4 linked regions of the Homo sapiens genome follow. The protein of the gene in region 1 purifies or fractionates together with the protein of each later gene. This does not show direct contact. Each region holds a gene or a part of one and is shown in the gene's direction. Other genes may lie near its edges. The genes, in order: HSF2, IMPA2, SDR9C7 and GM2A.

Region 1 (4,467 bases):
CATCAATACCTAGTTTATTGGGTGTTTTTAGCATGAAAGAGTGTTGAATTTTATTAAAGGCTTTTCTGCATCTGTTGAGATAATCATGTGGTTTTTGTCATTGGTTCTGTTTATGTGATGGATTACGTTTATTGATATGTGTATGTTGAACCAGCCTTACATCCCAGGGATGAAGCCGACTTGATGGTGATGGATAAGCTTTATGATGTGCTGCTGGATTCAGTTTGCCAGTATTTTATTGAGGATTTTCGCATTGATGTTTATCAGGGATATTGGCCTGAAATTTTCTTTTTTTGTTGTGTCTCTGCCAGGTTTTGGTATCAGGATGACGCTGGCCTCATAAAATGAGTTAGGGAGGAGTCCCTCTTTTTCTGTTGTTTGGAATAGTTTCAGAAGGAATGGTACCGCTCCTCTTTGTACCTCTGGTAGAATTCAGCTGTGAATCCGTCTGGTCCTGGCTTTTTTTGGTTGGTAGGCTATTAATTACTGCCTCAATTTCAGAACTTGTTATTGGTCTATTCAGAGATTTGACTTCTTCCTGGATTAGTCTTGGGAGGGTGTATGTGTCCAGGAATTTATTCATTTCTTCTGGATTTTCTAGTTTATTCGTGTAGAGGTGTTTATAGTATTCTCTGATGGTAGTTTGTATTTCTGTGGGATCAGTGGTGATATCCTCTTTATCATTTTTTATTGTGTCTATTTGAAATCCATTTGTTATCAGGTTCTCATGTTTTAGAATAACGGTGACGTCTTTGGAAAATACCTATTTTAGGAAGCCTAAAAATAAAGATGGTATTATTTCATTAATGTTTATATATTTATTGTGAATGCTAAGTGATGAAATATTTTTATGTACACTTTTGGAAAGGTTTCGTAGTTTTTATTATATCTTGGAGCCCTTATTTTCTCTTAAATCCTAAAACTTACACAGCTTCATTTTATGTTAAATATCAGGGGAATTACTGGAATTAGTTTACAGTTGGTTACACCATATATATTTAGCCAGCATGTAGATCTGGGACTTGCAGATGTCTGGGACTTACAGGAAAAATTAAGAACCTCTGCACCTCAGAGTTTGAACATGAAAGGAGCACTGAAGAAATTAACAATGGTAAAGATATAATTTCCCTACCACAGTCAGATGTGAGGAGAGAAGAAAGTGGTTCAAAGAAGCAATTTAAATGACAGAAAAGAACTGACAGAGCTACAGAAAGGACAAGAAGAAACACCACCTCAACTTTGAGGCTTCTAAATAGTGATAAAGAGTTTTAAGGATGTCATTATGTCATCCTGAGCTACTCTAAATATGTTCACTTATGCTAAATATTCTGTTTATGAGTGAAATGTATAATACATTTTTTAAATCAAAACTACTTAAAATGAATTTAATTGCTTAGTTAATTATCTCTCAATTAACATTTTGAAACCAGTCATCTTTGATTCATTCTGATCTTTTACTCGTGACAAATTCTATCTGTTCTGCTGCTGAAATCCCCCTTCATTTCATACTTAATATAGAACATCTTAATTCAGGTTCTTTGTTTTATCCCCTCAGTGACAGCAATAGTTCCTTAACCAGTCTTGTTATCTCTACTCAGATCTCTCTCTGTAGCCCATTTTCCCTGATGTTTCCCCATCTCATATATTTCAGATAATATACCAGTATTTACATATTGTATCAATTTTTCATTTTTTTCAGAAACATAAAATATGAAACAAGTACTTATATATATATTTTTTTCTTTTAGTCTGAGAATAAAGGATTAGAAACTACCAAGAACAATGTAGTTCAGCCAGTTTCGGAAGAGGGAAGAAAATCTAAATCCAAACCAGGTAGGTATAAATATAGTATTCAGTCTCTGTAGGTTTTTTTAATCCTATGCAGAAACAAGTGCAAGCCGAGGGTAGTCTTAATTGAATATGCTGGCTTTAGTTCTGTGAATAGTGTGTCGAGGTTCTAGTATATAGAGAAAGTTGAATTGGTGAGGTAACAATTCTTTAAGTTTTTTTTTTTTATCCTATTTAACTTTAGGAAACTAAAGACCCCTCATTTCTTAATTGTTGAATAAGAGCTATTGACTTGCACATTTTAAAATTTATTGACATAGTGCATCATGTCATTTCTTGTTTGGCTATATGAGAGTAGTAATTGCCTATGTGTACATCTCTGTTTTCATTTTTTTCCCCTCAGCTTGAACTCAGTATAAGCTGGTGATAAAAGAGTGTTTTTCTGATCTTTATAGATAAGCAGCTTATCCAGTATACCGCCTTTCCACTTCTTGCATTCCTCGATGGGAACCCTGCTTCTTCTGTTGAACAGGCGAGTACAACAGCATCATCAGAAGTTTTGTCCTCTGTAGATAAACCCATAGAAGTTGATGAGCTTCTGGATAGCAGCCTAGACCCAGAACCAACCCAAAGTAAGCTTGTTCGCCTGGAGCCATTGACTGAAGCTGAAGCTAGTGAAGCTACACTGTTTTATTTATGTGAACTTGCTCCTGCACCTCTGGATAGTGATATGCCACTTTTAGATAGCTAAATCCCCAGGAAGTGGACTTTACATGTATATATTCATCAAAATGATGAACTATTTATTTTAAAGTATCATTTGGTACTTTTTTTGTAAATTGCTTTGTTTTGTTTAATCAGATACTGTGGAATAAAAGCACCTTTTGCTTTTCTCACTAACCACACACTCTTGCAGAGCTTTCAGGTGTTACTCAGCTGCATAGTTACGCAGATGTAATGCACATTATTGGCGTATCTTTAAGTTGGATTCAAATGGCCATTTTTCTCCAATTTTGGTAAATTGGATATCTTTTTTTTACAAATACGACCATTAACCTCAGTTAAATTTTTGTTTGTTTTCCTGTTTGATGCTGTCTATTTGCATTGAGTGTAAGTCATTTGAACTAATGGTATAACTCCTAAAGCTTTCTCTGCTCCAGTTATTTTTATTAAATATTTTTCACTTGGCTTATTTTTAAAACTGGGAACATAAAGTGCCTGTATCTTGTAAAACTTCATTTGTTTCTTTTGGTTCAGAGAAGTTCATTTATGTTCAAAGACGTTTATTCATGTTCAACAGGAAAGACAAAGTGTACGTGAATGCTCGCTGTCTGATAGGGTTCCAGCTCCATATATATAGAAAGATCGGGGGTGGGATGGGATGGAGTGAGCCCCATCCAGTTAGTTGGACTAGTTTTAAATAAAGGTTTTCCGGTTTGTGTTTTTTTGAACCATACTGTTTAGTAAAATAAATACAATGAATGTTGAGTACTAGTGTCTGTTATGTGTCTTCTTTAGAGGTGACACTCACATGAAACAATTTTTTCTTCTCATAGGAAGCAGTAGCTTTAAACTGTCTGTGGTTCATTATTCTCAATATGAATCATACCAAGATATTTGTGCCTCATCTCGAAAATATATTGTATATTGCAACAAGGGAGAAATATAATCTCTAAATTTAATGTATTTTAAAGTTCTTTGTTTAAAAATTATACTGGGTTGCTTTCTATGTTTCTAATAAAAAAGTGAGAGAATTATGCCTCTCATTGTCCCAAATAGTGTAAGAATATTATCACTGGATGTCTGGAGAGAAGATAAGAGAAATAGTCAAATCACCTCTTTCCTTTGAAACAGTTGCCCAAGAGAATTATGGAGACTTAATGCAAGGCCAGGGCACTTTATCATGTGAAGAATTTCACCTTTGGGCAAAGGGCTGAAAGCAGTACAATTAATATTGTATAGGGCTATTTAATGAGTTTCAAGGCAGGTTTTCCTATTGGCCATATTCTGTCAGTGTCTTAGAATTTCTTTTATTATGATGTAAAGATTCAAAGTAAGGGCTAGCACAGAAGAATAGGAAAATTCCCTTAGGAGAGTTTTAGTTAGATCCTAAAATACTTGGCTCTGATGGTGGGATCTTGGTGAATTAATTCAAGACCCTACAACAGTGCTCTGCGTGAGCTGAAGAGGTTATGTTTCTAAGGGTGATAAGAGTTTAGAAACTGAGAGGAGAAAACCTTAAAAGACTTTTCTTCATTCCTTTCTCATTGTGAAATACAGTCAAGTTTCTTCTTCTTGGGGGCATTTTGGAACTCTAGAAGCACTTAAAAAATAATTTTGAAAAACTTGATTATGACCCTGGTACTTTTAAAGTTGACATTTAAGATTTTTCATCTTAAGTTTAAATAGTTGGAAGGAATTTAGGATATAGTTAATATTGCTGTTTTAAAACATAATTGTTATATGTTTCTTTAACATTTACCTAAAGGAATTTGAATGCCATAGTGATTTGATCTCTATCATCCACTCTACTTCCTCCAAACAATTTTTTTTTTGAGACAGACTTTCACTCTGTCGCCCAGGGTAGAGAGCAGTGGCGTGATCTCGGCTCACTGCAACCTCCGCCTCCCAGATTCAAGCGATTCTCTTGCCTCAGCCTCTTGAGTAGCTGGGACTACA
Region 2 (8,499 bases), on another chromosome or scaffold:
TGTCTACAGTCATGTCTGCAGAGCAGACTCTCCCCACTCCCTCTGCAGACAGCTGTAAAACATTGTCTTTCATCTCACAGGTATTAGCTTCCTACATGAGTAAAATCAGGTTTAAGTGAATAAAAATTGTGCATCTCTTCCCATGTACCAGGGAAGTATTTTTGGTGCCTCCAAAGACCGAGCACGGTTCACGCCTCTGCTGGCCTTCACACCGCTGCAGCCACACAGTGCAGAAGCCTGCTCCCTGCTGCCCACAAGCATGAGGCAGGTGGGAAGGGGGATGCTCGTGCCACCTTGTAGGCGGGCAGGCAGTCTCATGGGCAGAGGTGTACACAAGGTGGGTGATGAGGAAGACAGCTCTAGGGTATGAATGATCAGCTGCTGAAAAACATCCAGTGCTCAGTGTGGGTACTTAGAGTTATTCTCATAAAAAATGTGAGGCAGAGTTAGTCAGGTGTGGTGATGCATGCCTGTGGTCCCAGCTACTCAGGAGGCTGAGGCAGGAGGATTGCTTGAGCCCAGTGGTTTGTGGCTTCAGTGAGCCATGATTGTGCCACTGCACTCCAGCCTGGCTGACAAAGCGAGACCATGTCTCCAAGAAAAAAAAAAAAAATTTCTAAAAGTACTTGCTGGGTTACACTAAATGAAACCTAAAAAACAAATAGATAAATAATAAAGGTTACACACAGCAGAAGCTTTGTTAACAAATTAACTTATATTAATAGTTGCTGCTGGGAAAACAAGCTGCTTGGTGACTTCCCTAAAGGGTGTCCCACGCATCTGGCGAATGAACAGACAGAGCTCCTGCTCCCGAGTGTCCTGGGAGGCACGTGGGCATGCCGCGTGGGTGGTCTGGGTGCTGCAGCGTGAGTTGTCCTGGGTGTGGAGTGTCAGTGCCTGCAGACCCACACTGCCTCCTCCTTCAGGGCTCACTGGCAGTTTTCTTTCCACCGCTTCAGTTTCCTACTTGAAGTCAGGTTTAAAAAGGAGAAGAATTGCACATTCCTCCTCAGTTTCTTAGAAACTTACCTTTGTGCCTGAGTCATTTCTAGTCCCTCTGGACCTGAGTCATATCTGTTCGCTGCTTTGTCAACCTTGTGCCCAGTTTAAGCTTTCGTAGTTGCTCCTTGTATGTGTGTTTTCAGGGTGTGGAGCGTTTTCTTTAAAAACGTCATTGCAAGCCATTACAGAAGAGGAAAGTCACATAGCTACAGAAGACATGGAAAAACAGATTTAGTGCCTGAAGTTTCTAGGAAAACTGGCAGTGCTGACAGCACTTATGATCACGCCCTAAGTGGAATCATCACCTGTGTGTCTCCTGCAGGCTGCTGTTGTCAGGAGGCAGCCTCTCCACCCCCTGCCCCGGCTGCCATTGTGGCTTCTACCCACCATTTTTCCTCCTAGATCTGTTTGGGGAGCACCAGTTCCTGAGCAGGGGCTCTGGCTGGTGGGCCTGTGCATCACCTGACCTAGAAGCATGTGGACAACTGAGAGTGGAGAGGCAGTTCCTGCAAGGAGCAAGGCGTGCAGTGTAGATGAAGAACCAGAAGCCTGGGTTCACTGCATCTCATCTGCCTTGCCTGGCTAGGCTGAAAGCTCCAGGGGCAGACTGAGCCTGCCCAGGCTCTCCAGGAACAGCTGATGATTCCTTGGGTGTCTTGCTTAGTGCTCCTGGCTTGACTTGACCTGGTCTTCTTGGCTCAGAAGCCCCTGCTTATTCGTGGGTTTCTCCAGGGGGCCGGGGAGGAGGTCGCACAGCCTGAGATGATGTATGCGTGCACTTGTCGTATCCCAGGGTTGTATTTCTAGATAATTTATCAGCAAAATGGAGGGGCTGGATGACTCTGCATCCCAGGCATGAACTTCATAACCCAGCAGTGGAAGGATGGTCCCAGAGTGGATGGGGACCAGGGTGGTTACAGTGTGTATGGCAGCTCCCGTGCATAGAAAAGTGACATCGGGCCAGGCGTGGTGGCTCACGCCTGCAATCCCAGCACTTTGGGAGCCTGAGGTGGGCGTATCACGAGATCAGGAGTTCAAGACCAGCCCGGCCAGCATGGTGAAACCCCATCTCTACTAAAGATAAAAAAAATTAGCCAGGCGTGTGGCGCACGCCTGTAATCCCAGCTACTCATGAGGCTGAGGCAGGAGAATTGCTTGAACCCGGGAGGCAGAGGTTGCAGTGAGCTGAGATCGCGCCATTGCACTCCAGCCTGGGCGACAGGGCGAGACTCTGTCTCCAAAAAAAAGTGACATCGAATACCATGAGATGCCTGCTGTTGCCTCTCAGCATCTCGGTGGGAGGACAGCACTGCCAGCGGCTCTGTCTGTTGCTGCAGGGGTGGCCCACATCTGCTGTGTCCACAGTGGTAGCCGCTCACCCACGTGACTGCCAAGCACTTGAAAGGTGGCTCATGAGACTGAAGAACTGAAGTCTTTATTTAATTCAAATGTAAGCAGCCATATGCGGTGACTGGCTACTGTAAGGCGCTGAGCGGTCACAGAGGTTTTCATTTCAGTCTTTCCATTCACACTCAAGTCTCCAGCCTTATCCAAAAGTTCATTGATGCCAAATCTTAGACCACATGGTTCGTGCGGGGAAAGTGGCTTCCAGGAGGCTGATGACCACAGTGGATAATACACCAAACACCAGAACATGGGACGCTTCTTTCTTTCTTTCCTTCTTTTCTTTCTTTTCTTTTCTTTCTTTCTTTCTCTTTCTTTCTTTCTTTTTCTTTCTTCTTTCTTTCTTTCTTTCTTTCTTTCTTTCTTTCTTTCTTTCTTTCTTTCCTTTCTTTCCTTTCTTTCCTTTCTTCCCTCCTTCCCTTCTTTATTTCTCTCTCTCTCCTTCCTTCCTTCCCTTCCTTCTTTCTTTTCTTTTTCTTTTCTTTCTTTTCTTTTTTTTGAGATGGAATCTCACTCTTGTCACCCCGGCTGGAGTGCAATGGCATGATCTCGGCTCACTGCATCCCTCCCGTCCTGGGTTCAAGCGATTCTCCTGCCTCAGACTCCCAAGCAGCTGGGATTATAGGCGTGCGCCACCACCCCCAGCTAATTTTTGTATTTTTATTTCTTTTTCTTTTTTTTTCTTTTTGAGATGGAGTCTCACTCTCCCAGGCTGGAGTGCAGCGGTGTGATCTCAGCTCACTGCAACGTTAGGATCACTGCAACCTCCGGCTCACTGCAACCTCCACCTCCTGGGTTCAAGCAATTCTCCTCTCTCAGTCTCTCAAGTAGCTGGGAGTACAGGCGCCCACCACCACGCCCAGCTAATTTTTGTATTTTTAGTAGAGACAGGGTTTCACCATGCTGGCCAGGCTGATCTCGAACTCCTGACCTCAGGTGATCTGCCCGCCTTGGCCTCCCACAGTGCTGGGATTACAGGCGTGAGCCACCGCGCCTTGCTTGTTTTTCACTTATTTTCTTTTTCTTACTCTCTGCAGGTCTCCTTTTTCTCTAGTACACATGTGAACCCGGCACAGGAACTGGATAGAAAACCTCTCGGCAAGGCCACATAGTCATGCACAGAACAGATGTTTGCTTAGCGCCTGCCCAAGGCCTCACCCTTAGTGAACTTGGGACAGTCCAAGAGTGTCAAAAGCACTGCCCTGAATGCTTTAGATCTAGTCTTTTCTTTGATCCTGAGAATGCCTTTGGAAGGTGTAAACAGCGGCCAGCTCCACAGGGACCAGCCTGCAGAAGGTGGGCTGCGAATACACCTGACCACAGCATCTTCCCTGTGTGTGTGGGCCTGCGTGTGGGTGGGGTGCAGGAGGAAGGGTGACAGTGCATGGGGCGAGAGTGCTTTCCCTTGTTTTTGGCCTGAGCAGGGGGTGCTGGGAGTTGCCATTCGTGGAGGTAGAGGCAAGTAGAGAAAACCAGGAGTTCCCTTCTGTGCAGGTGAATCTTGAGAGAACATTGTCTCGGTCAGGTTCCTAGCAGGACAGACGCACACTCAAGTGAGGATTGTAGGGGGCCTTGTTTGCAGAGGGACTCATTACAAAGGAGGGGCCAGCCCAGGGCCTGCTGCAGAGTGCAGGAGCAGGCCGCCCATGTCCCTCTAGCAGGAATGTGTCAAGCAGGCCACATGGAGGAGTGGAGCCTGCACAGGGCACATGGGGCAGGGAGCGTCCCAGCCTCTCTCCTTCCTGCAGCCCCACCCTTGCTTGCTCCCAGAGGGAAGCTGGATTTGTGACTGGCCAATGTAGCAAGACCCCACCTCTACAAAAATAAAAATACTAGCTGAATGTGGTGGTATGCATCTGTAGTCCCAGCTACTTGGGAGAACAAAGCAGGAGGATTGCTTGGATCCAGGAGTTTGAGGCTGCATGAGCTATGATGATACCACTGCACTCCAGCTGGGCAACAGATCAAGACCCTATCTCTTAAAAAACAACAACAAAAAAACCAGGGAAGTCAGATACCAGGGCAGGAAGGGCACCTTTGGGAAATGAACCAGCTGCGGGGGGGCTCTGTTTGTCACCTGTGTCTGCAGTTCAGGTGAGCCAGGCTGGGTACAGACGTGGGAGATCTCAGCTGCAAGTGACATTTAACCCCTCGGTGCCCAGGTATCAGCATTGACTGGGAGAATCAAAGTCAGAGTCCTGGGCCACCTTGCTTGGTCATATCTCATCAGCCTCCTCCCCTACAGACTGAAGTTAAAATCGAGTTTAGTTTTGCTTCAGAAGATCTGTTTTCCAGTGTTCTTCACGCTTGCATTTCTCTGCCTGGCCTGCTGGAATTCCCTGGTGCTCTTTCTGAACGCTGGCACTGAGGTGTCACTCTGTTTTCTAAATCCTGCTGAGTAGGTCCGCTGGCAGGCAGGTCAAAAAGCACATGGTTGTTTAAAGACTCTGCCTCTGTTTGACCCAGAGAAACCATGATGACATCTGTTTGCTGTGCCACCTTTTTCTTTAATGGGACTGGAAGCAATTTCAGGCACGTTATTCTGTGTCCTTGGTGCATTTTCTCAGGCTGGGTTCTTCCACTGCAGGTTCATTGCAGAAGAGGCCGCGGCTTCTGGGGCCAAGTGTGTGCTCACCCACAGCCCGACGTGGATCATCGACCCCATCGACGGCACCTGCAATTTTGTGCACAGGTGAGCTGAGCAGGGATCGCCTCCATTGCAGGGCTTAACATGTCCTCTTCTGTGAGGTTTTGTCTTTTCAAAAGCAGCATTTTTTAAGGCAGGAATATATAAACAAACCTATAGTACACTCATAGTCTCATCAGAAAGATGATCAGATCTTGATATTTTTAAAATAAGGTTTTCCGTTTGTGAGAGGCTCTTGGAGTATGTTAGGAAATCTGCACTTGTTTAAAAACCAGTTTGTTATGTTAAAAATGTTGGGTTGCATTTAACAAGGACCCCTTGAAGGAGTCTGACTCCCCTCACACCCCACCCCCACTGGAGAAAAAGGTGAGGTTGGGATACAAAGCCTGTGCTGCCCCACAGTGGCCCGGAGCCCAAGGTGTAGAGAGTGGCCTGTGACAGGTGAGACTTGAGAGCCAGCTTCCTGTATGAGAGCAAACCTTGTGGTTACAAAAAGCAGGAGGTTTGGGGAGGTCAGAAGGGCCCGTGTGGGGAGGTGAAGGGAATGGAGCTTCGGGGATGGTGAAGTGACAGGATGCAAAGGTGACAGGGACACGACCACAGGTGTTCTCTGGCAGTGGCAGGTGATGGTGCTGCGCTGCCTGTCTACACGCACAGGTGGCTGGGGGCCTGGGGCACAGAGCATGATGTGGCTTAAACGGAGCGTGGTTCTCCAGCTCTGGAGAACCCTGGAGAGATTCCCATTCCATGGGCGGGTGGCTTGCAGCTCCTGCGCTCACAGTGCACGCCAGCACACTAGGCTGCACGCGCTAAGCAGGAAGGGTGAGCAGAGCCCGGGTGTGGGCTCCTTTATGATCTGCCTCTGATGGCATGTTTATATGTAAAACATGAAGTTATTCCATGCTAAGCACAGCCTTTTTCTAGGTGAGTTGCCTCGAGAATTCAGTTGTGCCTACATAAGGTGACCCTTTCGAGGCAGTGGAGTCGTGCCATCTGGTGCCAGCAAATGTGTCACCAATCTCTCCTCTCATTTCAACTAAAGCATGATCCTTCCCAGGGCTCTCCTCCCCAGAGTATGTCACTGAGTGGAGCCTCATTACTTCTGCCTGCTCGTGGTTCCAGGGTGCTCATAATGGTGACATGGCAGGTGAAGCCCCGTCACATGGTGAAGGCCACACGTCCATTCGAGGGTCTTCAGTGGCTCCAGAGACATAGTTTCCAGTGCTTTCCTGTCTGCACCCCTGGGGGGATCCTGGTACTGGGGAGGTGACTGGGAAAAGAGCAGCAATTTCAGAACAGTCTCCAGAGCTGATCCTGACAGTTCCTGAACCCCACGCTATAGCTGTGGTGATTGTTGTGGTCTGAAGACATCCGAAAGCCACCAGCATCTGCCACTCAGATGGCGCCTGTTCACCCCTGTGCCCACCAGTGCTGGGCCACAGCAGTGGGAGAAAGCTCTCCTGGGCACTGGAACAAGCGTGAGGCCTGGCACATGGTGCATTTGCTCTGGAAGCCAGCGGCTCATCCCAAGGTCCCACACACCCTGGCAGTCAGAGTTGCATTTGTGTACAATTGGTTTTGCATTTTTCCTGTCAGTTTGCAGTACCCAGCCTTTCCTGCCTGTTTTTAAGCTCCAGTGATCTCCCTATAAAGGAAGGATTATTTTGAAGATATTGAGCGGCAATAGCAGAATCACAAAACTGCAGGCAAACTGATCATGAAAACTGTCTGCAGCCGTGGCTGTCCCTGCAGCTGGCTACTGGGCACTCAGGCAGGGATGCTAGCAGTGCCACAGGGTGAGCTGTGGCTCAGAACTGGCCCCCATGGGGAGGCTGTGGTGCCTTCTGGGACCACCTGCCTGGCGCCCCACCTGGGACTGGGTCTGGCCTTTGGGGAGGGCTCTGCTGTCCCTTTAGGTCTGGAGAACCAGAAAACAGATGATTGAGATCCTTCCTAATTGGGCTTCAGAGGGTTGTTGAGTTACATCAGTCTTATGTGACTTTCACAGTGCTGTTTTCTTTCAAGGTTAACTGTCTTACGACATGGTCAGTTTATTCTGTTTGTCTTGGAAGCAGTTAGTGAAACTGTGGGAAGTAGTTTTTAAACAACCAACCCACCCAGAGTGTAGGAAGGTCCTTCTGAGCCTGCGGGGAGCCGCACAGCACACAGGCTCCCGAGAGCTGCCGCTCTTGTTCCAGAGAGTAAACCTTTCTATTTTCCTTTGCAGATTCCCGACTGTGGCGGTTAGCATTGGATTTGCTGTTCGACAAGAGGTGCGGGTGTGGCCCAGGTCCCCAGGGCCCCTCCCTGGGCTCCCTCTGGCCATCCTTCCTTTCTGGCTTCAGCCTCTGTGCGCCTGGTTTGCTGTTTGCCCTGTGCCTTAATCATGACTGGCAAATCCAAGCCTGTGGGTTTCAAATCCGAGAAAATAAACAAGTCCAGACTGGCTTTGGGGTGTGCGGGGTGGGGCTCCGTGGCTGGCCCTTGTCCCCCGTGGAGGGCTGGCCTCGTGTCAACCGTGGTCTATTTGTGACACTGCTGTGGAAGCGGAAGTCTTAAGTGAACGGTCCAAGTGCATCTCCAGCTGACCCCTAGAGCGTGTGATCTCACAAACTAAAAGGAGCACTTAGTTTTGGAGAGCATCCTCAATCCCAATATTCTAATAATTCTTTCTTATCTTCCTCTGGTTATTAGCATGAGAACATAGCTCTTTCATGGTTCCCATAGACCTTCTGAACTACACAGTGTTGTGCGACCTGCATGGAAGGCGTGGGGCTGAGGTTTAAAGCTTATTAAATAATTCAAGCAGCAGCACTGAGAAGAGCCTTAATTTCTTTCTAATTGAAACAGTTTTATTTAAATAGGGCCGAGGGCTGCATGTTTCTCAAAAGCAGCCCTGCTTCAGAGCAGCATTTGTGCAGCTTCACCTTAGTCTCAGCACAGACTCCCTGGCAGGGGAGCTGAGAGAAGTACTTAAGTTGAAGTATTTAAAGTTAAGTACTAAAGTATCTCAAAGTACTTAAGCTGAAGATAAGTAAGAATTGTAATACTGTAATTTGTCTAAGGATGCAATGATTGACGTCTTTCTCTGTTAAATAATATTGTGGTGCCCAGAGTGGGTGGGAGGCTGAGCAGTACTTCAGGGGTTGATTGATGTTCTGTGACTGTGTGAAGGGGCTGCTGGAACAGCTGGCTAGGTCCTTGGCCCTTCTGTGGGTTGGCTAGGGTCTGTCCTATGTTACTACACTGAATACGGGAGCTCCTGGCTTTTCGTGGTGGGCTCCTCCCCATGGGAGTGGGGGACATTCCTCTGCACTCTGGGAGCTCTTCACAGGCCTCAGGAACCAGCCGAATTCTAGGACTGACCTGGTCATGAGGATTCCTTTAAAGCCAGGGTACCGGAAGGGGAAGGATGATGAAATGCTGCCAGACACCTGCAGGCTCTG
Region 3 (8,906 bases), on another chromosome or scaffold:
TCTCTCCCTTGGAGAGATATTTGTTGGGTCCTGGAGGCATGGGGAGAGCATCTGAGTCCATACAATATACTCTTGTGGCCCTTGGAAGAGTACCCAATAAACTCAGCCTAGGACAACAACAGGGTTTTGGCCCTGACCTAAAAGCTCTGACACCTGAGAGAGGAGCAAGAGAGCCAGAACCATTGTTGCCAGTTCTCATAGGGGTTGTGACCCAGTCAGCCCTGGTGGCCATGGCAGCCTCCTAAGCTGGGGAGGGTCCTGGCAGTGGGATCTGAGCTGGAGATTGAGGATCCCCACCTGGCAGCCTTGAACAGAAATGGGGGAATGACTTTTGTCTTCAGCCCAGACCTAGGGGGAGCCTCAGCTGCCTGCCTGTGCTGTGGGGTCCTCATGAGGTGAAGCACAGGGCCAGGCCTGTGGAGGAGGCTGGGCAGGTGGGTTCATATGGGCTCGTGGAGGCCCTGGACAGGAGCTGTGCCTCATGCTGTTGGCAGTGGAACCCCCAAAGAAGGGATTTGCTCAGGGGAGCTCTTTGGTCTAATCGGCTTCTAGACACCCACTTACTGCAGGGAGCCCAGTGGCTGTGAGTGTGGGGAGCCAGACTGAAGGCAGAGGGACGCTCCTTAGAGGACAGCTGCCATCACCCAGCTCAGAGGCCAGGGAGATTCCTGGGGCAGGAGAAGAAGGGAGGGGACTGAGGACTGCAGAGGAGGTAGAATGTGGGAATTCTGGTGATCCATTGGATGTGAGGGGCATAGGAGGTGATAGCACTGAGATGCTGCCTTGCTCTTGAATTGGTAGGACTTAGGGCTAGTAAGCTTTGGTATGTAAAATATGGAAACCCCAGAGAGAGGCAAGGCCACCATCATAACTTTTATCTGCTATCTGCTGCCCTTCCCAACTCTCCAAGCTTTCTTGCATCTCCCACTGTCGTTGCATGCTGGGTTTGTATTGGGTTTCTTTGTTTTTTGTATTTTGCCTCCCAAAATTTCTTAAGTCCTTGCCCTTCTGCATGTCTGCCATGCAGGAGGGAGCTCTCCCACTTTGGAGTGAAGGTGTCTGTGATTGAACCTGGTCACTTCAGGACCAGTATGGCCGGCTCTGAGAGGCATTTACAGAACCTCAAGGAGCTGTCGGACTAGGCCAGCCCCGAGGTCAAGGAGACGTATGGGGAGAAGTTTCTGATATCCCGTGAGTGAGCTGTGGACAGTGGGGAGATAAAGAAATCCTTGTCTAGAAGTCTGGGTCCATCATTAGTGCCTCCAACAGTATGAGAATCTGTCCTCCAAACTCTGCCTCCCCAAAAAAGTGAGGACATTTATCCCCATTCCCAGGGTGCCATGTGGTCAACTGTTCACCTAAAGGAAGCATCCAAGCTTTCTATAATTGGGACCACTGCCTCATCTGAATCCCTCATTATTTTGAAGAGGAAACTAAAGTCAGAGACAGTGGCTACCAGTGGGCTCATGGGCAGCTGGGTTTAGAGATAGCTGATTTTCATATTCTTAGGCTGTTAGTAGAGACCTTCCATTTATGAGTCCAGATATCTCAAAAAGAGAGGCAGAGGGGGCTTAGAGTGAAACGGATGTTCCTTGGGTGAAGGTTGGGGCACTCTCTGGGGAATATGGATGGATTAGACTTGAGGCATATCATTTGGGGGGCCTGGAATTCTTAGACACTGTCCTCCTAATTCAGAGCTCTAAATGGGAGGGAAGGGATGTGCTAGTACTTTAAGGATCTTTCCTCATCCTTAACATGCATCAGAAAAGCATCTAGAAGGCTTTGGGCAAAATGCAGTACGAATCTATCCTTGTTGACCCACTGCATGGAGCGCTCACTACTCAGCTGGCTGAGACACCAATCTTCTCTACCTCCCCATGAGCGACATGCCTACCTTCCTATGGACGTCACGCTCAACTGGGGCTCTCCAAGGCTGGCTAAGCCCCTGTGAATCCAAGACTGGGGTGCATGGTTGGGTGGAGCTGGGTGATCTGGGTGAGGTGATGTGTCTTGGGGAGAGTAATGGTGTGGTGGGAGGGAGCACTCTTGCCATTTGGATGCCTATCCCAGCTTCTTCCTCATGCCCTCCACAGAATTCCACTGAGATATCACTCAGGACTGGCAACATAGGAGGAAAGAACCAAGGTGTTCTTCTAAAGATTGGGACCCAGTAACGCTCATAGGTGTCCTGTTGCCTTTGAGTCTCTTGGCCAATTCTGAGGAGTCTACACAATGGGAGCGTGTGAGGAGGGGAAGGATCCACAGCCCACACCTTCTCTGCCTCCTGCTTCTTCCCCAGGTGTGCATCAACCTGGCCAGTCTATTACACTCTCTCCATGATGGAAATGGCCTGGAGGAAGTGGATGGGGGCTCCTCTGAATATACCTGTGGATAAGGTGTGGGGCGACAGGGCAGCCATCAGCCTGACCCCTAGACCTCAGGTGCCAGCTCTGGGGGCATTGGCTGGCAGTGGTGTTCTCGATAGGGATTCTGACAGAGGACACAGGAACCAATGTTTGACCCTCTTAAAACCATTGGCTGGCAGTGGTGTTCTCAATAGGGATTCGGACAGAGGACACAGGAACCAATGTTTGACCCTCTTGAAACCATGACCCTCAAAAAACCATCTGGTTACTTTAGTTCTAGAGCAAAAGCTAAAAAGTGCAGCCATGTGCAGCAAGTTGCCTTCTAGTCTGAGGGGAGCATGGGCTGTGAACAAGAGGGAGGAGGAGGCAGGTGCCTTCATGGGGATCTGGGGATAAGAGGGATGAACTCAGGAGGAAATTGAAGAGAGAAGTTGGATTATCCCTGCCCTGTCTCAGCCCTTTCTGCCACCAAGGTGAGGGGCAATTGTTTCCTTTCCAGGAGTGAATCAAGTAGCCTGGGGTCACAGGAGTGCACAGAGGGACAAGGAAGCAATGACATGTCACAAAGGCACTGGCAGGCCTCTTTGTAGCACTTTGTAGCGACCTCTTTGTAGCACTCAGTGACCGGCCCTCACTTTAACATCATTGCACTTGGGAGGGGTGCTGTTTCATGGGGTGAGAAATAGAGTGGTGGGAGGGAGCTCTCAAGTTCAGGGTCATGTACCTCACTTCCCTCACCTCTGTTCTAGTTTTTTTCTGGGACGTTATTCAGGACTCTGGTGATATTAGGAGGAAAGAACCACATTTTGCTGCTTAGGAAGGGAGACCCAATCACAGATAATGGCATCCCACTTCCTTGGGCTCTGAGCTTCATGGCCCACCTGTCAACCTGAAGAATCCACACTTGTGGAAGGTCTTGAGCAACTGGGGGTGGGTGAGCCCACACCTGCTCTTCCTCCTGTCTACCTCATCAGGGTGTGTCTTGGACCTCAGCAGTCTATGCTCTCCCACTGGAGGGAAATGGCCTGGCAGAGGAGAGGGCTCCTCTCCTCTGAGATACCTGTGTGCATGGGGTGGGGATGGGGAGTGCAGCTACCAACCTGACCTATCAGACCTTAGGGGCCAGCTTGGCAAGGAATGCTGTCATCTGAGAGAGGGAGGCATTTCTAGCCCTGGGAAGAAGAGCCTTCTATGTGGTCCTACCTCCCTCACACCCCCCACCCTCATGGACTGTGTGTTTAGTTTGAGGCCAGGGGAACACTGCCAGCATAGAGGCCCAGGAGGTGCTGAGTCAGGCCCAGGCCTGTGCTGGGGCAGTTCTGAGTTATCCTTATGCTAAGTCAGACCCAACTCCTGGACCTCACCTGTGTCCTCAAGGACTGGGATACCCAATGCCCCGGACCTGCTCAGTCTTGAGTGACATGGTCTGACCTGTTTCAGCCAAGACTTCTCTGTTCATTCACCCAGGAGGCAGACAGAGACTGGGAGATTGTTCCCAGATCCCGCATAGGAGGTGCTCTGCCTCAGGTTGGTTATGAAGTAGGTGTGGTTTGCTTTCTACCATTTCCCACCTCCATCCCCTATAAGCTTTAGGTCTGCTCTTTGGGGGTGGGTTCATAATCTGGCCCCCTCCCCTACTTTGTTAAGGAACGGCCAAACCCTGCGGGGCTTTCCCAGGGTGACACCTGCTTTATGTGATTCCACGCTGGTCAGACTTGGCAAATGGTGGATCACAGAGATACATCCTTTGTCCCTTCACACTAGAGAACTTTGTGGTCCCATTTCTGTGTCAGACTCGCTAAGCCATGAAGGTGTGAGCTAGGACCAGGCTCATCCCAAGGAATGGTGACCCTAGATGTTGATCCAAAGAACCACAGAGGCTCCAGCATCATTCCCTGCATCTTATGCAATTCTGGGTGTGGCCCCTCACTACTCACACCTCTGGTTTCCTTATTTCCTTTCCTTTACCACCTTACCTCTTAGCTTTCTGTAAATTATTTGCTAAATTGCCTAGAATCTCTGTTTCTCCTCCAAGTCCCGACCCTGAGAATTTTCTATGTCTCTGGCCCCAGTTCTCTGCTCCTCCTATATCTCATCCCCTCTTACAGTCAAGGCCTCTGCCCAGACAATTCCCTCAGCTGCCCAGTGAACTCATGATCCCTCCTCATCATCTTGCCCAGGGCTGCTTACTGGTGACCTGAGTATGACCCCCACAGGGTGTCAGGCCTGAGTCCCCCAGGTCTTTCTGCTTTCTGGTGGCTAAGCTTCACATGCCAGCCTCCCCTATAGGAGGGCCCTGCTGCCTCTAGCCTCAGGACAATGGAGGTACATCCACCCTAGGAGAAATCCATTGCTTTTCATCCTCTCTCATGATGGAGACTTACCTAAGAATTCCAGAGAGCTGATGACCTGCGACTTGTTTCTCTTGGGGTTTGGAAGGTACAGAACCAATGTTGTTTGTTTTACATTAATAAATTTGTCTTGAGTATTTTCCCTGAAAATAAACTTATTTACATACCTGCACTCACGACAAATGATTTTGATCCCTGGAGACCAAAATCCCCAGGCTGGGTTGGGGGCAGGGTGGGGACAGGATTTCTAGGGGAGCTGTCTGGGGTGAGTCCTCATCTTTCATTTGCCTGCCTTACACCGCCTGGGTGAGCCACCACTCATCACCAACATTACAAGTGGATTATTTCCAATTCTTGGCAGCTTTACCCATCAGGGCAGGGGGAGAGAGGGAGGCAGCTACCAGGGCTGTCAGAGGTGACAAGGCTTCAGGTTGGACTTGAATTTCTTGCATCTGGGCTAATTGCTGTGGTGATGCATCCACCTATAAAAATTACAGCGTGGCTCACCCAGGGACCTAGATTTGTTGCAAGCTGTGGGAGGAAGGAGAGTTCTTCTTCCAGGTGGTTTCCTGCAGACTGCCTGCTAGGGCTCAGAGGACCAGCTTCTTCCCTGCTGTCTCCTGAGCCCAGTCCCTCTTGGCCATCACATTCCCCTTGCCCTATGGCGGCCCTCACAGACCTCTCATTTATGTATCGCTGGTTCAAGAACTGCAATCTGGTTGGCAACCTCTCAGAGAAGTACGTCTTCATCACAGGCTGTGACTCTGGCTTCGGGAACCTGCTGGCCAAACAGCTGGTTGATCGGGGCATGCAGGTGCTGGCTGCTTGCTTCACTGAGGAGGGATCCCAGAAACTTCAGCGGGATACCTCCTATCGGCTGCAGACCACCCTACTGGATGTCACCAAGAGCGAAAGCATCAAGGCGGCGGCCCAGTGGGTGAGGGACAAAGTGGGCGAACAAGGTGGGGCGAATTACATTCTTTGGCTTTCTTGGTTTCTCCTTCTTCCTCTTCCTCTCTCCCGAAGCATCTGACAGTATCAGAGACCCTGATGTCCAGATTGGGTGGGAGGGGTGATGTAGGGAAAGGCCCCTGCCTCAATCTGATTGGAAGCCACTGCATGGTTTGGCCTGTTCACATGAAGGGGTGATTTCCCAAGGAAGTTTTCTGTCCTGGAAACTCAGAGAAACGGGAAAGAGGTCTCAATAGGAAGCGAGGGGGGAAGATGTGTTCTGTGTGTCCAAACCTCTAAAAATGGACGTGCCTGGCTGGGCGTGGTGGCTCACGCCTATGAGCCCAGCACTTTGGAAGGCCGAAGTGGGAGGATCATGAGGTCAAGAGATCGAGACCATCCCGGCCAACATGGTGAAACCCCATCTCTACTAAAAAGTATAAAAATTACCTGGGTGTGGTGGCACGTGCCTGTAGTCCCAGCTACTCAGGAGGCTGAGGCAGGAGAATCACTTGAACCCGGGAGGCGGAGGTTGCAGTGAGCCAAGATTGCGCCACTGCACTCCAGCCTCGTGACAGAGCAAGAATCCCTCTCAAAAAGAAAAAAAAGAAAAAAAAAGGATGTGCCTCTCTGATGTTTCAGCAGTCCTAACCATCAGCTCCTGGGGAAATACAAACACATTTCTTGTTGGGATCAGGATGGGGGAGGGGGAATGAGACAGGAGGCTGGATCCCATGAGTGGGTGCAGTTTGTCTCCTTGACTATGTCAGGCAGGGGAGAAAGAGATCTGGTCTCTTCTTGACATCATGGTGGGTGTTGATTTGACTTCAGGGCAAGTATGTATGTCACAGTGGCTGCTCCTATTGGGAAAGGAAGCTGTGGACTGGGGCTGGCCCAGGACTGTGTGGGGACCTGCCTCATGCACTTCCAGCACACAGGGTGTGGGCCCAGGAACAGGAGGAACAGGATGGCTGAGTTGCAGAAGCAGCAGACTAGAGGAAGTCCTCCCTCCTAAAGGAACTAGTCTGGAGCCCATGCGCAGGTCAGGGCAACAGAGCCCTGGAGCCAGGGGGATCTAGACAGTAACTCCCTGCTTGATTCTTCTCCTTAGCACTTATCACTAGTCAATGTACAATAGATTTTACTTATTTATTGTCTGTTTCCTCTGCTAGAATAAAGCTTCCTGGGGACAAGGATTTTTGTCCCTTTTATTTACTGTACATCCTTAGTACCTAGAATAATGTCTGGCACCTAGTAAGGTACTGAATAAATAGATTTGAGTGAGCTAATTAATTAATAATTCAGCAAGAGTGAGCCTCTGTCTTCAGCAGGCTGTCTCAGCCAGTTCCCTACATTCAGCCTTGAGCCACTTGCCTTAATACCTCACTTAGCATGTGAGTTTCCTGTTGCTATTGTAACAAATAACACAACTGTGGGGTCTGAAGACAATACAAACATATTATCTTGTAGTTGTGGAGGAGTAATGTCTAAAATAGGCCTCACTGATCTAAAATCAAAGTCAGCAGAGCTGTGTTCCTTCTAGAGGCTGTAGAGGAGAATCCGTCTCATCGACTTTTCCAGCTTCCAGAGGCAGCTGGCATCCCCTGGCTCCTGGCCTGCTACCTCCATCTTCAAGGCCCGCAAGGTTGGGCCCAGTCTTTTTCACACTTTTCTCAAGCTCTCTGATTCTCCGGTTTCTGCCTCTTTCCACTTAGGACTTGTGATTATATTGGGCTCACCAGGTTAATCCAGGATAATTTCCCGTGTTAGCTTCCTCCCTAACTTTAAGGACAATTAATTAGCAACCTCCATTCCACCTGCAACCTTAATTCCCCTTTCCCATGTAATCCAGCAGATTCACAGGTTCCAGAGATAATGAGGATGGGGACATCTTTGGGGGACCATTATTTTGCCTAAGCCACTTGGCAATATCCTGGTCTAAGAAACACTGGGAACTGGGGTGGGTAGGGGGATGGGAGAGGAAGTTCTTTCATGCTTTCTCATTGCTCCTGAATGGAGAAAGGCAGGGAGACTGGGTAGGGGCATGGCTTGGGTGGGGACCCCAGCCCTAGAGGGAGGGGTGGACTAGGATTTATGTTTGTGTTGAGACCTGCCCTCAGGAGACAGTGGGATGCGCCTGCAGAGTATCTTGGGGCTGCTGAGGCTGGGGCTGTGGTGCGAATCACCAGGCAGTAGGACTTGGGGAATCCTTGCATGAAGGAGCTGGAAGGGGTCCTTGAGGAGTGTTTAGAGGGGTTTACAGTAGAACCCCAATATGTAAAACAAATGAAAGGAGAGCTTCTCCTGCATTTTCCTCCCCCTAGAAGGCTTGCAAAATACAGCCTGGAAACAACTGTTTTAGTCTAATCTGATGAAGAGCCTGAGGCCCAGAGAGGGAAGTGACTTGTTCAAGGCTGGAGGTAAAACCAGGACTGGACCTGAAGCTCTTCAACCCTGGGCCCCTGCAGAGTTGAATGACAACACTTAGCATTATTTCTTTCCATTTGTACCAACCTAATTGAAATATCTCAAGGATAGTCCTCATCACATTTTCCATAATTATTTTATTTAAATATTTTATATATTTATTTATAAATATTATTATTTCCTTCTAGGCTTGTGAGTTCCTTGAGGGATAAGATGCTGTGTTGTTCATTTTATGTCTCCTTTGCCCTGTATTTTACTTTATTTTATTTTATATCGTTTTATTTCATTTTATTTTTAGAGACAGAGTCTCACTCTGTCACCCAGGCTGGAGTGCAATGGCACCATTATAGCTCACTGTAACCTCGAACAAGGTAACCTGTAACCCGGGCTCAAGTGATTCTCCCACCTCAGCCTCCCAAGTAGCTAGAACTACAGGCACATACCACCACGCCTGACTAATTTTTTTTCTTTTTTTGTAGAGACAGGGGTCTTACTCTGTTGCTCAGGCTGGTCTCAAACTCCTGGCCTCAAGTGATCCTCCCACCTCAGCCTCTCAAAGGGTTGTGATTACAAGTGTGAGTCACTGCACCTGGCCTCCTTCACCCTGTAATTGTCACAGACTAGATAAATGCATGAATAAATGTGTGAAGATGAATGAATGAATGGATTGATTTTGGTAGTATGTGAAATGCAGTTGGTTATACTTAAGTGAATAGAGAGGGAGAAGTATGATGGGGAAGGGATCTAAACATTAATTCATTGGTATGAAAATGAAACTCTTATCCCAAAGCTGATAGCTGAAATGCTGTCA
Region 4 (9,171 bases), on another chromosome or scaffold:
GTTTTCTAGTATACAATGCCAGCAGGTTAACCTGTTTATTAATGTGGTCTTGGACATTGTCTGTATTTTTGACTATTAGCAATTTCACTGGGTGATGCTTAAATTGTAGTAGTGCCCTTATTTTAACCATAATCTCTCTTCCCAGCAGGGGGATTGCGTAGCTTGATACTACTAGGCACTCCTGTTGGAAGATTCGTTTCTCAAATTGACAAATCAAAGGAGGAGTAAAAAATCTGGTTTGTGGCTTCCCTTCCATTCCCATAACACTCATGGACCAGGAGGGAAGTTTCCCTGCATAAGCAGTAAGGACAGTGTAATTTGCCCCTGTAACAAAAAGAAACTGAATTTGGGTGCCCGTGACATCCAGAGTTACTCCAGGCTCCCCAGTAGTAATTACAAAGTTCCTGGACAGGGGCAGTGAGGAAGACCCCGGGCCCCTTCAGTCTTCATCTGATTCCTCCTTTCGCACTGCTAGAGTTTTGCCTAACCCAGCCCCTCAGTGGGAGCAGAGGCAATCAATTCTCCAGTGCCAGGGTTCGTGACTGGTGCCTTTGCGTTGACAGCAGGGGCCTGAGGGGAGCTGGAGGGCGGGGGCTTAGTACATTCCTTTGCCCAATGCCCGCTTTTCTTGCATTTGAAGCAAGACTTGCCTTTGCTGGTATTATCTTTATAGTCCTTCGGGTTTCCCTTAGATGCTCTTTGGGCATTCAGGGCATCACCAATGATGGCTGCCATAATTTTGGCTTGCCGTCTTTCTTTACTCTGTTCTCTTTTTCCTTCCTCCAGGTCATATTGTTATACACCATAAAGGCAGTATTAAGAAGCTGATTTTGATTAGCTTGTGGCCCCATCTGTAGCTTTTGGAGTTTACGTCTGATATCTGGGGCAGATTGGCTAATGAAATGCTGTGCCATTAATATTTTGCCTTCGGGAGAAGAAGGGTCCAGATTAGTATATATTTAAAGGCTTCCTCCAGCCTACCATAAAACATGGCTGGATTTTCCTCCTTGCCTTATGTAACCTCCCTTACTTTATCATAATTTACTGCCTTAGTTAATCCCTTTCTCATTCCTCCAAGGACAGCCTCAAGAAATTTAGCCAGGTGGTTCATTCCCATGGGGGCGTTATAGTTTCAATTAGGATCAGTAGTGGGAACTGTGTCTGGGCCTCGGTAATTGCCCTGAGGGTTTCAGGTGGATAATTCATCCACTTCCCTGCTGGCAGCCTCAAAGATTTGTTCCTTTCCTGAGGGAGTGCCAACAGGTTGCTAGAATGAATTGACCATCTCTCCATGAGAGATCAAAGGCTAAGGTCAAAGTGTGGAACTCATCTGCAAATTTCCTAGGATTCTCAGAACAGCTTCCTAGCTTTTCCTTACATTGTTGAATATTAGTTATAGAGAAGGGGGCCTGCACTAGGACTGGCCCCTCAACTCCTGCTACTTCCCTAAGGTGTAGCAGGGCTGGAAGAAGAGCTGAATACAGGGTTCCCCTCCGAATGTGAGGGGGACTTAGTAGGGTCTCTGGTGTTTGCTCCTGGGGTTGAGCCTCAGGAGCACTTGCAAGGGGCTATATGGGGGTGGTCACTGTTCACTCTGAGAGACAGGTGGCCCTTGTAAGAGGGGGTCATCTATAATATGTAGTTCTCCCTTAGAACTTTCCTTTGTGGGGTGGGTTCTGGGAGTTTCACAGATTGTTAGGTTTTGGTAAAGCGTCATGGAAGTCTGCATGTACAAGATTTCTGACCATGTGCTCTGTCTCTTGCAAAATAGGTCTAATTGCAGGATGATGTCATAATTAAGGCTACCATTGACTACCCATTTTTTCCAGGCTGGGCAGCTCATAATGGAGCCAGACAGTACTGCAGAAAAAAATTATATGTTTTCTCTTTAGATTGTCAGGGTCAAATTGATCGCAATGGTGGAGGACGTAGCCGAGCGGGGAATCAGGTGGAATAGGTAGAGAGTTGCCCACAGTGGTCTGGAAAAGAGAAGAGGACTGACCAGGTGACCCAAATTTTACCTGAGGCATCCTCCTGGAAAAATTCTGGGCCCAGACTGGGGTCCCTGGGAGCATCTCCCCATTAGGGCCCTGACTTAGCCTGTTAGATGTCTCTGACCTTAGATAGGTGCAGGCATTGCTTTGGAATGGTTCCCTCCACCACTGAAGACCTACTGTGAACTTTCCTTAAGGTTTTCCCATGCCACTTAAAGCAACTTTTTTTTTTTTTTGAGACAGGGTCTTGCTCTGTTGCCCAGGCTGGAGTGCAGTGGCATGATCTCGGCTCGCTGCAAGCTCTGCCTCCCAGGTTCATGCCATTCTCCTGCCTCAGCCTCCGAGTAGCTGGGACTACAGGCGCCGACCACCATGCCTGGCTAATTTTTTGTATATTTAGTAGAGATGGCGTTTCACCGTGTTAGCCAGGATGGTCTCAATCTCCTGACCTCGTGATCCGCCTGCCTCGGCCTCCCAAAGTGCTGGGATTACAGGCGTGAGCCACCGCAGCCGGCAAAGCAACCCTTTAACTCTCTCAATTTAGGCAATAATAGATTACCTTTCATGAATTCCCCCCACTCCCCATGCATCACACAGACCACCTACGACATGCCTGGACCCTCTGACTCATATAACCTTTTTGCATAGCTAGGTGGGTTTTCTGTCCTTAGCCAGTCAAGTGGGGGAAGGGAAGGGAAGAATTTAGCATAAGGTTTAAGTCACCTGAAACGTGTGAGTTTGCCCTGGATGAGCTGCTGCTGCTGCCAACCCAGACACAGGTAGGGATCTATAATCAGAAAGGACAGAAAAGAGTCTTTCACCCTTCTGGGCAGGGCAGCCGTCCCTGTTCACTCTTTGGCCTTCAGAGAACACTGGAGAGTGGCCCCGGCCAGTTTCCCTCAATTACCAAGGAGCTACTAGGAAACGACCAGTGAAAGACTGAAAAAGCAAAAAACAAACAAACAAAAAACAACAAAAAACAAAAAGGAATAGAACTCAGAAAAAAGAGAGAAAAAAAGAAAAGGAATAGGACTCAGAAAAATGAAAACAAGGAAAAAGACTTCTCAGTGACCAGGCAGTGGCGGTCAAGTGCTTCGACACGGAAGCCTTTCAGTCTCACCAGAGAGTGGCCCTGGCCAGAAACTTACAATTTCCTCTGTGCTTAGGCGCTGTCCACCGAGTTGGGTTCCGAGTTGGAAAGGAAAAGAGAGAGGGAGAGAAAAATTCCCCTGCATTAAAAGGGAAATGGAGAAAAATAAATCCCAAGCTTTGGGCCTACCTTCTCTCCTGGCTGGCTTGCCAAAATATGTTACCAGTAGAGGGTTTTGACTGAAAGTTGTCTAGGTTCTTGGCGTTTTTGAACAAAGAATTGGAGAAAACACACAGAAAAGCAAGGGAAAAATGGAGCAATGAAAGAACAAAAGCAAGGGTTTATTAAAAATGAAAGTACACTCAACAGTGTGGGAGCGGGCCAAGCAGCAGCTCAAGGGCCCAGATACAGAATCTTCTTGGGTCCAAATACCCCCTAGAGGTTTCCCATTGGCCACTTGGTGCTCACCTCATGTAAATGAAGTGGTGGCCCGCAATCAGTCTGACTGGTTAATCAGAGGCCGAAGTGAAGTTACAAAGGTCATGCTCCTGTGCAAACATCTGATTGGTTGTGGAAAGCAACCAATCAGGCTGAAGTGAAGTTACAAAGTTGCACTTCTATGCAATTTTAACATATAAACTGAAATGTAGCATAGAAATCGAAATGTACTTTCAATTTCCCATCTGCTGCACAGAAAAGGTGGGGGGTTGTAAAGAGAGTAGCCTCTGGTCCTCTTGTTACTTAGGTGTGGAAAGTTAGGGTTTTCCTTTCGATTTAGTTCTAGGAAGTCAGCGTGAAATGGCCTTAGGTTCCCTGCCTGCAGACTCTATTCTCCTACCTCAGTTGGGCTAGGTGAAAGGGAAGAGTTGATCAGAATGGGAGGATCATTATGTAAAGTATGGAGCTTAGTTAATAATAGTGTACCAATGTCATGCCCTCAGATTTAAAAAAAATTTTTTAATTTTTTATTCTTTTGCCACCTCCTTGTCGCTGGCAGTGCCCCCCAGTTATGCACAAGCACAAGCTCTGGGTCTGCAGTCTGAACCCCCGGCCAGGCCACGGGTGTCTTATCAACAATAGAGGAAACGAACAGAACTTTGTAGTATTTTTGCAACTTTTCTGTAAACCAAAATAAAAAGTTTACTTTAAAAAAGATGATCAGGTGAGTTTTAAATTCTACACATGCATTCATGTACTCAACAGATTGTCTATTATGCATCAGGCACTGGGTATAAATGAGTGCCTGCATCATGATGCCACCCCTTGTGTAGTTTACAATCCTGTGGTAAATTGGCGGTATTGGTAACAACATCCCTGTTTTTTCTAAAAGCAAATCTCCAACTAGTATATTAACCTGACAAAATCTTGGCTGATGGGGTGTCTAAAAAGAAGTCTTGCTCTATTCCTTCCTAGCTGTGCGACCTTGGCAGAGCTAACCTCACTGTGTATCAGTTTCCTCAGTGCTAAAATTGGGGAAGAAAAAAAAAAAGCATTCCCTTGTGCGTCCTTAGCATGCTTTCAAGCAGTTACTAAATGTTAGTTTTTATAACGGTTATAATTATTAAAAAGATACGGATTCGTGAAGTCAAGAGATCAAGACCGTCCTGGACAACACGGTGAAACCCCGTTTCTACTAAAAACACAAAAATTAGCTGGGCGTGTGGCGCGTGCCTGTAGTCCCAGCTAGTCGAGAGGCTGAGGCGGAAGAATCGCTTGAACCTGGGAGGCAGAGGTTGCAGTGAGCCGAGATCGCGCCACTGCACTCCAGCTCGGGCGACAGAGCGAGAGTCCGTCTCAAAGCAAAAAAAAAAAAAAAAAAGACACACATATGGGGAAGCGTAACATGGCAGAGAGTCTGACATTTTTGTCCGGAAGGACTTGGGGATGAAAACACTGAATCCGCGGTTTCCCAAAGGTCCTTCCAAAGGTGACGGCCCCGGCACGAGTTCACAAACCACAGCTCCGCCCCATCCCCTGCCCGGCCCCGCCCTTCCCAGGAGCTCTGCTCCGCCCCGCCCCCGACTCCGCTCGGCCCCTCCTCGCGCCACGCCCCCGCCCCTCCCGCGCGCGCAGCTCCGCCCCGCCCTCGTGATCCCGCCCCAACCTCGTGCTAAGCTCCCTTCCGTTCCAGCCGCCTTCAGCCCCGCCGCGCTCAGTTCCGCCCCTTTCTCTTCCAACTCCGCCTACGCCCCAGAGAGGGAAGGCCTTGACACCTACGCTAGAGAGACAGGCTCCAATGAAAAGAGCGAGGGGGCGGAGCCGGGAGGAATCGGTCCAATTCTCGGCCGGGAAGTCTCTGGCCGGGACGGGGCAGGGCGAACCTGCCAGTGACTGGACTCAGCTTCTTTGCGTAACCAATACTGGAAGGCATTTAAAGGCACCTCTGCCGCCACAGACCTTGCAGTTAACTCCGCCCTGACCCACCCTTCCCGATGCAGTCCCTGATGCAGGCTCCCCTCCTGATCGCCCTGGGCTTGCTTCTCGCGGCCCCTGCGCAAGCCCACCTGAAAAAGGTGAGTGCACCCTCTTTTAAGAGTCTGTTTGCAGCCTCCTGGCCCAGCTACGGGTGTGCGGGTCTGGCTGAGATATGGGGGTGGCCACTCCGTTCTCTAGAATTGGTTCTCTGCACTAGAGCCTTCCAAAGTAACTAATTATGGGATTCTGGTCTGTACAATGAGGGTGGCCTCTAAAGACTTGTTCTGCTCCAGGCCCTTTTTGGAGAGATTAATCTCACGTCTGCACTCTCCTGCCCTCCCTCCAAGCGCCGGAGTGAAAATGCAGACAGCCTTAAAACTAAGGCATTGCCCCCAGAGATTCAGTCCTGTTAACCCTGCACCTTACTCCTGACCCCCACTCCTTATGTCCCCCATGATAAGGCCTGCTGCCTCATCTCTTCCCCTGCTCGAATGCCCTGAGGTCTTCCTGAGAGTTGGGAGGGTTTGAGAGCTTTTCCAGGCCAGAGGATCCAGATTTGCCCATCTGGTGACAAATACCCAGGCCTGTGACCCCGCTGCCCTTGGTTATGAGCCACTGAGACAACAGTCCCCGTACCCTCCAAGCTTCCTCCTTCACTTCTCATTGACACCGCTTCTTCCTTCACTTCTCATTCACACCGTGCTGCAGATCCCTGGGAAAGGGAAGTTCTGTAATCCCTTCACCTGAAAAAGCCTCGTTCCTGGCTTATTGCAGCTAGCCCAATGTCTTTCAGATTCAATCTATGTTGTTGCAAATGACAAGATGTTCCCCCTTTTAAAGGCTGAATAGTATTCTGTTGTGTATATATGCCACATTTTCTTTATGCATTCAATTTGATGGATAATTTCTTCATCAAGTGTCTGTTGATGGATAATTTCTTTATCCATCAAGTGTCTGTTGATGGACACTTAGGTTATTTCCATATCTTAGCTATTGTGAGTAATGCTGCAATGAATATGGGAGTGCAGATAGCCCTTCGAAATGTTGATTTCAGTTCCTTTGGATATATACCCAGAAGTGGGATAATGGCTCATATGGTAGTTCTGTTTTATTATCTCATTTATATGCGGATTCTAACCAAGTTGAACTTACAGAAGTTGAGAGTAGAGGTGGGGTCTCACTCTGTCACCCAGGCTGGAGTGCAGTGGGGCGATTGTAGCTCACTGCAGCCTTAAACTCCTGGGCTCAAGCAGTCCTCCCACCTCAGTCTCCTGAGTAGCTGGGACTGCAGGTGTGGGCCACCAAGTTCTGCTAAGGAATAGGCTTTGAGATTTATTGCACACCAGGGTGACTATCGTCAGTAATGTATTATATACAGAAGCTCCTTAACTTTCCATGAGGTTATGTTCTGATAAACCCATCATAAGTTGAAAATGCATTTAATACAGCTAACCTGAGAATCATAGCCTAGCCTACCTTAAACATGCCTAGCCTACCTTAAACATGCCCAGAACATTTACATTAGCCTACAGTTGGGCAATATCATCTAACACAAAGCCTATTTCATAATAAAGTGTTGAATGTCTCATGTGATTTACTGAAGACTGTACTGAAAGTGAAAAACAGTATGGATACTAAAAGTACAGTTTCTACTGAATATTTATCACTTAGGCACGATTGTAAAGTTGAAAAATGGTATGTCAAACCATTGTAAGTCAGGAACTGTGTGCATTTCAAAACAACTAAGAGAATACATTTCACATTGCAGTGTACCCCATAAATGTATACAACTATGGTTTGTCAATTTAAAAAAAACCCAAGACCAGGTGCGGTGGTGCACACCTGTAATCCCAGGACTTTGGGAGGCTGAGGTGGACAGATTGCTTGAGCTCAGGAGTTCAAGACCAGCCTGGGCAACATGGTGAAGCCCCATCTCTGCAAAAATACAAAAATTAGCTGGGCGTGGTGGTGTGCGCCAGTATTCCCAGCTACTTGAGAGGCTAAGGTGAGAGGCCCAGCTACGCCTGAACCTGGGAGGTCATGGCTACAGCTGAGATTGCACCACTGCATTCCAGCCTGGGTGACAGAGTGAGACCCTATCTCACAAAAAAACCCCAAAAACAAAAACCCGATTCCATTGCCTCTTGGCTGCTAGCTGTGGTCAAGACATCACACATTTCTGGTAGCAAAGGGATAGGTCCAACCCTGATCCCCTCCCTTCTACCATCTTGGAAGTGTTTGAGAGTGAGGAACAGTGCTGTGTAGGGGAAAGCGGGTGATACTGAAAGCAGGGAGGCTTGGCTTCTGATCATTCCCCTGTCTCAATCCATGGATTTCCTGAGTCTTGTTCTCCTCATCTGTAAGATGGGTGTGATGGTGCCAACGTGCATCTCGGGGAGTTGTCGGTGAAGGGAAATGCATTCATTGATGGAAAATTTCTAAAATCAGAAACAAATAAAGCCATATAAATCTGTGGGCTTGGCCTCACTCTGCCCCCGAGGCAGAAAGTCTGTTTTGCTTGTTGAATGAAGGAACGTGGACCTTTTGACTTCATTTGCCTGGAGAATTTATACCTTGTTCCTGAATGTTGGCTGAGAATGCTTCTCTTGGCTCCAGGGCTGGCCGCTATGAGGTGGAGTCTGGCTAGAGGCTGCTAGCTCACCCTACAAACTTGTTGTATATGCTGTGGGTATGGATGCCATCTCAGACTAGGTCTTAGATTGGCAGTTTTGAAGAGGCCCTGAGACATTATAAAGGTCACTCAAAATCACACAGCACCTACATCTTCTTGGGGCTCATGTGATTCAGAGCCCTGACCTTGAGTCCCTGGGCCAGATAAAGATGGGGGTGGGGGGTGACAGTGAATGAACATCAGGAAACCTGAATTTCAGTTCCTCTTCTAGCATAACTGATCTTGTGACTACAGGCTGTGATGGGTGTTAGATAACAGGGGAGGATATCTAGCCCCATGCTAGTCATATAGTAGGTGCTTAATAGACTCTATAGTGCTGTATAGTGGCTGTCATTTGTTGTACCCATACTATGTGCTATGTACTGGGCTATGTGCTTTTTTCCTAAAAAAAAATTTGGAATAATTTTAGGTTTATAGAATAGTTGCAGCAGGGCGTGGTGGTTCACCCCTATAATCCAGCACTGTGGGAGACCAAGGCAGGCAAATCACTTGAGGCCAGGAGTTTGAGACCAACCTGAACCTGGCCAACATGGTGAAACCCTGTCCATACTAAAAATACAAAAATTAGCCAGGCATGGTGGCGTACACCTGTAGTCCCAGCTACTTGGGAGGCTGAGGCAGGAGAAATCACTTGAACCTAGGAGGCAGAGGTTGCAGTGAGCTGAGATCACGCTGCTGCACTCCAGCCTGGATGACAGAGTGAGACTCTGTCTCAAGAAAAAAAAAAAAAAAAGAAAAGTTACAGAGATAATATAGAGTTTCTATATACTCCTGACTCAGTTTTCCCTGTTAGCATCTTATATGTACATATCTCCAACACTAAGAAACCAACATTAGTACATTACTGTTAACTGAATTCTAGACTTTATTTGGATTTCACCAGTTTTCCCATTAATGCCCTCTTTCTGAGCCAGGATCCAATCCAGGGTACTGCACTGCCATTGTTGTCATGACACATATAATTGTAGTCCCCCCTCTCC

Evidence for each region.
Region 2: the proteins of HSF2 (region 1) and IMPA2 purify together in Homo sapiens (affinity purification with mass spectrometry; 2 studies listed by BioGRID and IntAct, with this or other methods). This does not show direct contact.
Region 3: the proteins of HSF2 (region 1) and SDR9C7 purify together in Homo sapiens (affinity purification with mass spectrometry; 2 studies listed by BioGRID and IntAct, with this or other methods). This does not show direct contact.
Region 4: the proteins of HSF2 (region 1) and GM2A purify together in Homo sapiens (affinity purification with mass spectrometry; 2 studies listed by BioGRID and IntAct, with this or other methods). This does not show direct contact.

Annotation. Positions count from the first base shown.
Region 1 is NC_000006.12:122,429,682-122,434,148, forward strand, and holds the end of HSF2 (heat shock factor protein 2), read left to right. Parts: intron 1-1,748; coding exon 1,749-1,833; intron 1,834-2,243; coding exon 2,244-2,539; 3' UTR 2,540-3,438; downstream 3,439-4,467. UniProt on the Homo sapiens protein: DNA-binding protein that specifically binds heat shock promoter elements (HSE) and activates transcription. In higher eukaryotes, HSF is unable to bind to the HSE unless the cells are heat shocked.
Region 2 is NC_000018.10:12,004,890-12,013,388, forward strand, and holds part of IMPA2 (inositol monophosphatase 2), read left to right. Parts: intron 1-3,448; exon of another isoform or gene 3,449-3,520; coding exon of another isoform or gene 3,521-3,702; intron 3,703-4,993; coding exon 4,994-5,098; intron 5,099-7,280; coding exon 7,281-7,326; intron 7,327-8,499. UniProt on the Homo sapiens protein: Phosphatase that can use myo-inositol monophosphates, myo-inositol 1,4-diphosphate, scyllo-inositol-1,4-diphosphate, glucose-1-phosphate, beta-glycerophosphate and 2'-AMP as substrates in vitro.
Region 3 is NC_000012.12:56,930,734-56,939,639, reverse strand, and holds the start of SDR9C7 (short-chain dehydrogenase/reductase family 9C member 7), read left to right. Parts: upstream 1-5,231; 5' UTR 5,232-5,378; coding exon 5,379-5,679; intron 5,680-8,906. UniProt on the Homo sapiens protein: Plays a crucial role in the formation of the epidermal permeability barrier.
Region 4 is NC_000005.10:151,247,701-151,256,871, forward strand, and holds the start of GM2A (ganglioside GM2 activator isoform 1 precursor), read left to right. Parts: upstream 1-5,484; 5' UTR 5,485-5,516; coding exon 5,517-5,597; intron 5,598-9,171.